Homo sapiens: one gene and its partner. Each later gene encodes a partner of the first gene's protein in a complex. Each region holds a gene or a part of one and is shown on either strand. Other genes may lie near its edges.

The links. Proteins that work in one complex are often made in the same cells at the same time.
Region 2: POLR3B (region 1) and POLR3GL share a complex: the UniProt entries of both Homo sapiens proteins name them as parts of the RNA polymerase III (Pol III) complex.

The regions. Positions count from the first base shown.
Region 1 is NC_000012.12:106,360,740-106,367,770, forward strand, and holds part of POLR3B (DNA-directed RNA polymerase III subunit RPC2), read left to right. Parts: intron 1-3,130; coding exon 3,131-3,163; intron 3,164-5,776; coding exon 5,777-5,833; intron 5,834-5,918; coding exon 5,919-5,983; intron 5,984-7,031. UniProt on the Homo sapiens protein: Catalytic core component of RNA polymerase III (Pol III), a DNA-dependent RNA polymerase which synthesizes small non-coding RNAs using the four ribonucleoside triphosphates as substrates.
Region 2 is NC_000001.11:145,974,672-145,979,361, reverse strand, and holds the end of POLR3GL (DNA-directed RNA polymerase III subunit RPC7-like), read right to left. Parts: intron 4,538-4,690; 5' UTR 4,497-4,537; coding exon 4,371-4,496; intron 4,056-4,370; coding exon 3,926-4,055; intron 2,279-3,925; coding exon 2,210-2,278; intron 1,880-2,209; coding exon 1,823-1,879; intron 1,585-1,822; coding exon 1,511-1,584; intron 1,380-1,510; coding exon 1,266-1,379; intron 1,002-1,265; coding exon 915-1,001; 3' UTR 514-914; downstream 1-513. UniProt on the Homo sapiens protein: DNA-dependent RNA polymerase catalyzes the transcription of DNA into RNA using the four ribonucleoside triphosphates as substrates. Specific peripheric component of RNA polymerase III which synthesizes small RNAs, such as 5S rRNA and tRNAs.

The DNA of each region.
Region 1 (7,031 bases):
TTTGTCAGTGTTACTGAGTACTTACCTGGTGGTGTATTATTCACAGGGTTTATACAAGTTCAAAAAATGTGTTTTCTGCCTCCCAGTGTGTTATAGGCTTATAGAGAGAGACGTGTAAGCAAGTGGAATAACATGCAATAGGTACTGTGATACAAGTAGGCGAGGGGTATTTTGGTATTACAAATGGTAGCTAGGATGTGATGCCTGAACTGAGTTTGCCAGATGTGGATGAAGTGTGGTGGTGCGGAAGCATTCCAGATAGAAGGAGGAGGCGTAGGCACAAGTACAGCTGCAAGCACAGCATATGATGTATGCCTCGCTGTGGAGTTAAGACATGGTGAAGAGGGTGGGGAGGCACTGAAGAGTTGTAGAGAATGAGGTGCTCAGCTGTGCACATGAGGACATGTACACTGGCTTTAGTGCTGAGCATTGAAAGGGACGAGCAGGAAGAGTAGTAAGGAAGTATTGCCGCAGACCAGCTGAAAGATTATGAGGGCCTCAACTGGCACAGGAGCAGAGGATAAATGCGAGGAAGGTTAAAAGGAGGTCGACTCAGTAGAATTTTTGTTTTCCTGTTGATTAAGAAGAGTCAGAAAGTTAGGACTCCCGGGTATCTAATTTGGGATTGACTGGGATAAATGGTGATATTCATTGAGATTGAGAATGGAGCTGGGGGAAGATTTAATTTTGGACATACTGATCTTAAGTAGCCTCTGAGGCTGTAAGGTATCACTGCCCAGTCAATAGTTGGAGGGGACAGGCCCATACCCAGTAGCTTACTGCAACAGTGATATTCACTCACTCATTTATTTATTCAGTATTTATTGGAGTCTTTTATGTGCCAGGCACTGTGGTAACAGGATAGACAGGGTCACTGCCCTTGAAAGAGCCCACATTTGGAACTGGGGGGCTGTGGGATGAGATGGGGGAAGCTAAACAACACTTTCAAACAGTGTTGTTTGAAATCCTCCATTCCCAGCCCTACTTGAGAAAAGACATCGCCAGGGATAGAACTTTGAAGAACACCAAAATTTGCAGGGTGGCAGAGAAAAAGAGGTGTGACAAGGCCCGGCCGGAGGAAGGAAAGACATAAGAGAATGATACCACAGAGTGTTATAAGACAGTGATCGGCATGGCCAAATACTGTGGAAAGGGAATGTGAGGGGGCATCAAGGGAGGTCTTTTGAAGTAGCAGCCTTGGTGACCTCTGTCGAGCTCTTTCACTGGCAGGTAGGTCAGAGTCCTGACTATAACGGAATGAAGGAGTGGGAAGTGAGGAACAGAGAAGCTAAATATGGAGTAATTTGGGAGAGATCGTAAGCTGAAGGGCAGGGAAGAAAGTAGTCAGAGGAGCTGCTGAGTCAAGAAAGTTTTAAATTTTTTTTTTAATGGGAGGATTTGAATACTCGTTTTAAATAGAACAGGTTGAATATCAAGGACTGAACTGGGGCAAGGTTTCCAGTCTTCAGGAGAAGGTTGGCAGGATTGTGTCTGTGGCGGAAGGGTTAGCCTTAGACCAAGGAATGGATGGTCCTTCCTTTGAAGTGGGAGGAAACGAGTATAAGAAGGGGTGTAGAGAGAGGAATTTGAAGATGTGGGAGTATTAGCTCATAGGGCTGCCGTAACAAAGTAACCACAAACTAGGTGGCTTAAACAACAGAAATTTGTTTTCTCATAGTTCTGGAAGTTAGAAGTCTGAGATCAGGGTGACAACAGAGCTGGCTCCTTCTGAGGGCTATGAGAGAGGATCTGCTCTGGGCCGTCCCCTACTACAGGTGTTTGCTGGCAATCTTTGGCATCCCTTGGCTTGCAGAAGCTTCACTGAGACCTCTACCTTCATCTTCACATGGCATTGTCCCTGTGTGCATCTCTATGTCCAATTTCTCCTTTTTTATAAGGACACCAGTTGTATTGGATTAGGGCTCACCTTAATGACTCATTTTACTTAATCACCTTTGTCAAGACCCCATCTTCAAAAACAGTCACATTCTGAGATACTGGGGATTAGGACTTTAGCATATGAATTTTGAGAGGGACACAATTCAACCTATATCATTGTCATTCTTCTATTTTTAAATTTAGGTGTAATTTATATAATAAAATGTATGGATACTAGATATTCAGTTACATTGGTTTTATAGTTATGTGCTCTATGTGGACATTGCATCACCCCAGAAAGTTCCCTTATGACCCTTTTCAGTCTATCCCCCCAAGCACCTTTTGATTTCCGTCATCATAGATTAGCTTTGCCTGCCTCTCTTGTTTTTGACTATACCCAGGGGTCTGCCACCTTCCCTGGCCACTCCTCGGTCTCCTTTGCTGGAGCTGCCTCCTGCTCCTCCTCTCTGATTGTTGGATTATTCTTGGTTGGTCTCACTTTGTGGAACTCTTCTCCATCTACATTCCATAGGTGATCTCATCCATCACGTGCCTTTAATTGCCATCCACTTGTTAATCTCTTCCTAGTTTATATCTCCAGGCCACTCCATTCCCGAATTCAAGACTCATTTGTTGCCTCCTTGACATTTCCACCTGAATGTCTAATGGAGATCTCAAGCTTAACACACCCAAACCAAATTTCTAGTAGCCCCTCCACACCTAAACCTGCTATTCCTACAATGTTCCTCGCCTCCATCAATTTTAACTCTATCCCTCTAGTTGCTCAGGCAATGTAGGAAGCAATCACCATATGTGTCATCCTTCTGTAGCCCTGAGATGAGCTCTGACCAGACAGTAGTTGAGAGAGAATGGGAGGGAGAAAGAACTCCCTTTGGGTCTTGAGACCCAGCTCTCCCACCAGACTCTCTGAGCCTTATTTTCCTTTTCTCAAACTGGCAAACTTCACTTAGGAAGTGTCATGAGAATAAAATAAAGGATTGAAAAGTGCTTAAAATCTTGAGTCATCAGGAAGAGATTAAGTTATATTCTGTTTAGGAAACCTGTAGTGTATGTATGTATGTGTATACATATTTATATGCATATGCACACATGTGATTTCCATAAAAATGTTTAAAAATTATTCTTTTTGTTTTGATTTACTTTCCTTTGCTTATTTTGGAACATTAAAATAACTTATGAAAGTACTGTTGCTGGTACAGAGTTCTGATATTCTTCTTGTTTTGGCTCACAGGAAAAATGGAGGCTGCTTCCAGCATTTTTAAAGGTAATTGTTTCACATTTAATAATAATTGGTTATTTTTCAGATGAAAAAGTCAAGAAATAAGCCATTTTTTAAAGATTAAATTTTTGTCATCAACATTTTTTGATTTTGTATAGCTGTGTTTGGAAATACAAGGAATTATAAGGTAAAATCCCTGCCTGAAAGGTGCTGGTTTGGAGAGTGGTAGTCTAATTTTAGAGAGAAGTAGTAGTACATGCACAGTAGCATGGCACATGATTAAAAACCAAAGTGCTATCAGCAAAAGAGCAATGGTCAGAGAGGGCCACCCAAATGAAGTGAGACATAAACCACATCTTAAGAGAAGAAGGTTTAAGCCTGAAAGCTGGGTGCAGAGAGCGTGGCTCAATCAAGGTGTTCAAGAGGAGCCTCCACAGAGTCTGCAGGAAATAGCGACCAGTCAAGAGGAGCTGCTGAATATGATATGATGTGGTGTCGGGCTTCAATTCAATTTCCAAGAGCTTATGCTAAGAAGTAATGAGTACCACAGTGAGAGACCACTTGGCACCCGCTAGGATAGCTATAATCAAAATCAAATGTTAATAAGGGTGTGGAGGAATGGGAACTATCATGCTCCACTGGTGGGAACGTAAAGTGTTATAGCCACTTTGGAAAACAGGCTGTCAGTTTCTCAAATGGTTAAACAAAAAGTTACCACATCCTCCAGCAATTCCACTCCTAGATATCTGTCCAAGAGACATGAAAACATGTGTCCATGCAGAAACCTGTACACAAATGCTCATAGCAGTATTATTCATAATAGCCAAGAGTGGAAACAACCCAAATGGCCATCAGCTGCTGGATGGATACACAAAATGGGATGTATCTGTGCAACAGAGTATTATTTGGCAATAAAAAGAAAGCAGGTACCCGCTGCAACATGGACGAATCTTGAAAGCATTGTGCTAAGTGAAAGAATGGAGACTTGAAAAATGAGGCCGGGCGCGGTGGCTCACGCCTGTAATCCCAGCACCTGGGGAGGCTGAGGTGGGCGGATCACGAGGTCAGGAGTTTGAGACCACCCTGGCCAACATAGTGAAACCTCGTCTCTACTAAAGATACAAAAAATTAGCTGGGTGTGGTGGCGGGCCCCTGTAATCCCAGCTACTTGGGAGGATAAGGCAGGAGAATAGCTTGAACCTGGGAGGCAGAGGTTGCAGTGAGCCGAGATCGCGCCACTGCACTGCAGCCTGGTCGACAGTGTGAGATTCCGTCTCAAAAAAAGAAAAATGAGTAGAGTTTTGTCTCTACTCATTTTGGACTCTACTCTAGAGTTCAGTTGCGTGTTATGGGCAGAGGGGAGAGTGCTGGGAAACGAGGCTGGGAGTTGTCAGGGCCAGTTTCCTGATCAGATTTGAAAGCCGTGTTAAGGATTTGGCTTTTCTTCTAAAAGCCGTAGGAAGCTATTGAGGAGTTTCTAAGTTGGGGAGTGACCAAGAATCAAATAAAATGGTCGTAAGGTCAAGAAGTTTCTTTTTCCCCCTAAGAGACCAGGTCTTGCTACATTGCCCAGGCTGGATTTGAACTCCTGAGTTTGAGTGATTCTCCTGCCTCTGCCTCCCGAGTAGCTGTGACTGTAGGAATGTGACACCTTGCCTGGCCTTTTTGTTATTTTTTAAAAGGAGCTGCACATAAATGGAGAAGAAGGTGCTGGGTGCTGGGCACAGTGGCTCACGCTTGTAATCCCAGCACTTTGGGAGGCCAAGACAGGCGGATCATTTGAGGTTGGGAGTTTGAGACCGACTAGCCTGGCCAACATGGTGTAACCCCGTTTCTACTAAAAATACAAAAATTAGCTGGGCATGGTGGCGGGCACCTGTAATCCCAGCTACTCAGAAGGCTGAGGCACCTGAACTGCTTGATGCAGGGAGGCGGACGTTGCAGTGAGCCGAGATCGCACCACTGTACTCCAGCCTGGGCAATAGAGCGAGACTCTGTCTCAAAAAAAAAAAAAAATTTTTTTTTTGTTAAAAACTAAGATACAAATACACACATTAGCCCGGGCCAGAATCATCAATATCACTGTCTTCCATCTCCATGCCTTGTCCCACTGGAGGGTCTTCATGGACAGTAACACACATGGAGCTGTCATCTTCTATGATAACAATACCTTCTTCTAGAATACTTGCTGAAGGACCTGCCGGAGGCTCTTCTTGAGGAGGGGTCATTCTTTTCAGAAATACACTCTATGAAATCAAATCAAGTTGTAAGTCATTAGGCGATAGGAATTTTTCAGCTCCATTATAATCTTATGGGACTGCTGTCAGATATGTGGTCTGTAGTTGAATGAAATGTTGTTATGTGGCACATGACCATATATTCATGTACTCATATTTTGATTTCCGAGAGTCAGATTGCTTCTCAAGGAGGAAAACTCTCGAGGATATGCTAGTAAGACGATGCAGAAATGGAATGAGAATGCATTAATGAAAAGATTTATTAAATAAAATTCATGGATTATTTTTCTCATTTTGATTTTGATAAAAATTTGATGTTCACCTATTATTAGATTCCATTATATGATCTATTATTTGAGCATATCATCAGTACTCTTTGCACTTTTGCTAACCTGTTTACTTTCTCTTTCTATCTGTTTAGGTGAAAGGCCTTGTGAAACAGCATATAGATTCATTTAACTATTTCATTAATGTAGAGGTAAGCATCAGATGTTAGAAATAGACATAAACTAAGGATTAATTGGAAGCCAGAGTCTTTGCTAATGTTGCATTTTCCACTGCAGATAAAGAAGATAATGAAAGCCAATGAAAAGGTTACAAGTGACGCTGACCCTATGTGGTACTTAAAGTAAGGAACCAACATTCTTAATTTGCTATGTGGGTTACATCTAACATTTTTTAAAGTGAGTGAAGTTGCTATCAAAACTCTTTTAAAATCATTGTCTTGGCCAGGCTCGGTGGCTTATGCCTGTAATACCAAGCACTTTGGGAGGCCGAGGTGGGCAAATCACCTGGGGTCAAGAGTTCGAGACCAGCCTGGCCAACATGGTGAAACCCTGTCTCTACTAAAAATACAAAATTAGCCAGGCGTGGTGGTGCACATCTGTAATTCCAGATACTCAGGAGGCTGAGGCAGGAGAATCGCTTGAATCTGGGACGGGGAGATTTCAGTGAGCTGAGATTGTGCCACTGCACTCTATCTTTTACAGCAGAGTGAGACTCTGACTCAAAAAAATAAAAAATGAAAAAATAAATCATTGTCTTTTATTAACTATAAAGTGCTCAAATTAAATTTTTAACTGGCAAATTATAATGAGCTATGGTTGGGAAAATTTTGAAACTATTAGGTTTTAAATATTTAAATTTTTATTTTGAAATAATGTTAAGCTTAAAAGAAAAATTGCAAAAGTAGTACAAAGAATTCTTCAATATTTTTCACCAAGCCTTCACTGATATTAACATCTTACATAACCATAGCACAATGATCAAAACCAGGAAGTTAGCACAGATACGATGTTGTCTACTAATCTGTAGACCTTATTTGATGTTTTCTCACAAATGTCCTTTTTCTGGTGTAGGAATCAATCCAGAGCTCCGTGTTATGTTTAGTTGTCTTGTATCCTTAGTCTCCTCAATCTTTCTTGGTCTTTCATGACATTGACACTTTTGAACAATCTAGTCAGTATTTGTAGAAGTTCCTTTAATTTGAGTTTGTATGACGTCTGATTGGGTTATACATTTTTGGCAAGAATACCACAGAAGCAATGTTTTATGCTGTTCTCACTGATTCGTATTGGGGTTACAGATGCCAATATATTTTATTACTAATGATTTTAACTTTGTTCACTTGATTAAGGTAGGATCTTCCAGATTTCTCCACTGAAAGGTTACTATTT
Region 2 (4,690 bases), on another chromosome or scaffold:
GACTTGCTCTGCACAGACATACCTTTCAAAGTGGCATCTCCAGAGTCTGGAAGAGGAGGGAGTATGGTGAATAAGTCAGCTCCTCCTCCCTCCTCATACCTGGTTTTCTTGCCTTTCCCCACAAAAATAGCTGTAATCATTTTTTGTAAATAAGGACAAGATCAAGGTCAAGTGTGGGAAAGACAGGACCTATGTCCTTGTGAACATGTGTGAACAGACACAATCATGTCCTTGTGGCCTGAGGACCAGAGGCTCAGAAGTCAGCTGTACTGCAGGGGGCGTAGGCTGTTCTCTACAATTTACTTTGCATTGCCCTACAGATGAGGCCTTGAATATTCCTTGGCTGGGCTCGATTGTGAATATGTGTCCCACCATGGGGGTAGAAGGGAAGGGACAAAGGACAAGCGGGCTGTAGGGCTGTAACCCTCCAGTGTGTCACACCAGACCCGGCTTAGTTAAGCATTTCCTTCATTCCTCCAGCCCTCTGTCACCAGGCCTCACCCACAACAGAGAGACAGATAAAAACACTTTATTTAAAAGTATAAAACCAGGCTTACTCCTTCAAACTGCTCCCACCCCTAATTATCTCCACAAAGAGCTATATAAATTGGGCAGGGGTATGTGTACAGTCATCTCAGCTCTAACAACCCCAGTTCTTCTTTCAATTCTCCTTTCTCCCTTCATACAATTGAGATGTTTGTCCTTTGCACTTTCCCCAAGATAGCAAAGGTGATACAAATGTGGAAGGAGGGGAAGTGTAGAAAATAAACTGTCATCATCCTCTATTCCCATCTCCAGGGAACAGACAGATTATATGAACTCTGACCAAATGATTTGCTTGTCTGAAGAAACAAATAATAGGTACAGTTACTCTCTGTATCCTAAAGAAAGACACGAGGGTCCAGAGTCCTTCTTCAGTATATAGCCTCGTCCATATTGTCATCACTGTCACCACCAAAGTCCTCTCCATTGTCAAAATATGACATGATGTAATCAGTTTCCTGAAATGGAAAAAAAAAAAGTAAAAGTCAATTTGGCATTCACCTTCCTTCCTGTGTACCAGACCCCTTTCCTCTCAGTCACACCATTCCAGGCCTGAGACATCTCTTCCAGCTGTAGTTTGTAGAAGGGGGGCAGATGAAGTAGAGAGAAGCCCCTACCCTGGGGGGCACTATCTCTGTTGGCATGCCAACCCTCTGAGGAGAGCAACCCTAGTATAAAGAGGGTAAAGGGAGGGGGACTAAGGTGGAAGGAGTCCCCTTCACCTCTTCATGTTCTTCTTCATCATACTCTTCTTCTTCCTCCTCTTCCTTCTCTTCTTCTTCTTCTTTCTCCTCATCCTCCTCTGAAGTTACTTCTTCTTCCTTCTTCTCCAGGGTCTCATGTGGGGATGAATAGGAATAGAAACTCAGGTTCAGTTCACAGAAGGGAAAAATTGAGGCACACATGGGCCAAGAGAGAGGGAATGGATCCAGGGCTCAGGAGGTCTCTATGCACACTTCCTCCTCACCTCTAGTTTCTGTATTGTTTCCTCCTTATCTTCTGTGGTCTTAGGGGGCCTCTTGGGGAGCAGAATTGTAATCCCTGGTGGAGGGATCAAAAGGTAAACCTTCAGAGAGCAAATTTTGCCAGCTTTATAGCCCATCCTCATGCAAAGAACATGTCACTCTGCTGCCCTCATGTGGCCACTATGACATCTAGCAACAACACTTGGTAGATTGGGTATAGGAACTGGGATGGAAGGTGAGACCAGCAGCAGCCTCGGCCCTCAGGCTGATGAAGGAAACCTCTCTTCTCCCTCCTTTTTTCCAGATACACTCACGTTCCTTCTGTAGCTTCCGCACTCGGATCTTTAGCTCCCGGGGTAGACGCCGCCAATCTGGGAATAGTGGGAACGTAAATGTCAATAGGACCCTGCCTGGGGTCTCCAGTGAATACTGACTGGTTTTAAAGGGGGGTGAGGGTTTTAAAGGAGAGGAAGGAAGGGGCTGGGCCAAAGTTGTTCAGTGGCTTGGATATCTCCTGAGTAGTGGGAACTATTTAATAGCTTTTTCAGGTAGAATCTGAGAATGTGTTGGACCATAACTAAGGCTCTAGCTTGCAGATGCTGGATCGGGGAATGGGGTGGGGTCATGGGCGTGGTGGGAATAGCTTGAAGCATCCCATGCATTTGAAAGAAGGGCAGTCAATGAAAGGGCCCATCACCTACCAGGGTTCCAATCGATGGCATTGTCAATCGGACCTGACATCTGATATTTGTCTGAATAACGCTCCACATCTGAGGGGTGGAAGGGTCAAAGTTTTATCCCTTCAGAGACCCAGAACAGGACTGTTCCTGAGAGTCCAGCCCTCTCAATACTGAGGAATTATCTGTTTCCTTACCCCAAACCCAGAGCCCAGGGGGTCAGCTTCAGTGAGGACCTTATCTACTTTTTTTTTTTTTTTTTTTGAGACAGAGTCTCGCTCTGTCCCTCAGGCTGGAGTGCAGTGGTACAATCTCAGCTTACTGCAACCTCCACCTCCCAGGTTCAAGCGATTCTCCTGCCTCAGTCTCCTGAGTAGCTGGGACTACAGGCACACACCACCACGCCTAGCTAATTTTTGTATTTTTAGTAGAGACGGGGTTTCACCATGTTGGCCAGGATGGTCTCAATCTCCTGACCTCGTGATCCACCTACCTCGGCCTCCCAAAGTGCTGGGATTACAGGCGTGAATTACTGCGCCCGGCCCCTTATCACTCTTCTAACCTGTTCCTTTTCCACCCAAAATTACGATTTTTTTTTTTCAGACAGAATCTCGCACTGTCGCCTGGGCTGGAGTGCAGTGGCGTGATCTCAGCCCACTGCAACCTCCGCCTCCCAAGTTCAAGCAATTCTTGCCTCAGCCTCCCAAGCAGCTGGGATTAGAGGCATCTGCCACCAGGCCTGGCTAATTTTTTTGTATTTTTTGTAGAGACGGGGTTTCACTATGTTGGCCAAGCTGGTCTTGAACTCCTGACCTCGTGATCTGCCCACCTCAGCCTCCCAAAGTGCTGGGATTCTAGGTGTGAGCCACCACACCTGGCCTTTTTTTTTTGAGACAGAGGTTTGCTGTGTCACCCAGGCTAGAGTGCAGTGGCAAGATCTCAGCTCACTGCAACCTCCACCTCCCAGGTTCAAGCGATTCTCATGCCTCAGCCTCAGCCTCAGCCTCCCGAGTAGCTGAGACCACAGGCACACACCACTGTGCCTGGCTAATTTTTATATTTTTAGTAGAGACAGGGTTTCACCGTATTGGCTAGGCTGGCCTCAAACTCCTGGCCTCAAGTGATCCACCCATGTCAGCCTCCCAAAGTGCTGGCCATTACAGGCGTAAGCCACCGCACCCGGCCATGATGATTTTTTTTTTTTCTGTCCCTTAGTTCAAAGGCATGGCTGTATTAAGAAATAGCGTGGTGCAGTGGAAAGTATGCTAGGGAATAAGAAACCAGGATTTCAGTATTCTCTTGTTGGTTGGTGCTTATAATATCCAGATTGTTAAAAATTTTGCTGGGCGCAGTGGCTCATGCCTGTAATCCCAGCACTTTGGGAGGCCAAGGCAGGAGAATCTCTTGAGCCCAGAAGTTCAAGACCAGCCTGGACAACATAAGGACACCCTATCTCTATTTTACAAAAAAATAAAAAATATATAATTTTTTAGAAAATACATCCCCCTACTTATACACGTGAAATGGGATTTTAATATTTAACCTCCTGCTGTCCCAAGACTATCATGAGACTCAAAACAAACCATGAATACTATAATGCATTTCAGATACAGGGGTAACTATTATGATCTCCCCAGTTAGATAGTATGCTTCCTGTGCCCCTCTGGCCCCCAGTGGTGCTGAGCACAGGGCACTCCCCATGGAAGGCACTCAGAATATGATGCTAGCATTCCAACTGACCTCTCTTGGGGACAGCTGGCCGGATGAAGTAGGGGAGCTGCCTCATGGCTCCTCGTAGCTCTTGCTTCAGTGCCAGGACATATTCCCCTTCCTCGCCTGAGGGCAAAGGTACTGGGCGGAACTCCAAGGGCTAAAGAGGCAGGGGCAGTGGTCAGTTCAGGGAGAAAATGCTAGTACAAATTTAGGAAGACCCCTCCTCCCAATTTAGTCTAACACTCCCACTGAGCAGAGGGCCAAATGACAATCGAGGGAGTAACATATTATTTTGAAAGCTGGGGAGAAGTAAAGGTGGACACTTCTTTGCCTGCAAAACATCCCTGTGCATTGGGAGTATAGAGAGAGGGCCAAAGCGAGGATGGTTTTATGATGGTCCAGGAGGAATTCAGAATCATGTACAGTCAGCCAGGGGCACATGAGAGTCTGGGAAGGGAGTGGAGAGACTCACAGGGAAGAGTGGAGAAGGCTGCAGGGTGGGTGGGGGCAAAGCATCCCCTTTCCCAATGCCCACGGCCTCCACGTTGAAGGTCAACTGGCCCCGGCCACGACCCCGGCCCCCACCCCGGCTGGCCATGGTGGAGGGGGCCTGGGTATTCAGAGATCCAGTGAATAAACCTAATAAAGACAAAAACAAAGAGAAAAAGAAATGTAGTAGAATGGACAGGAAGCCAAGGAGGTACAAGACATTCAATCTTTTATCTCTGGGACATGAAAAGTTAATGTCATTCAACAAATTTTGACTGAGAAGGCACAGTGTCAGAGAGAGAA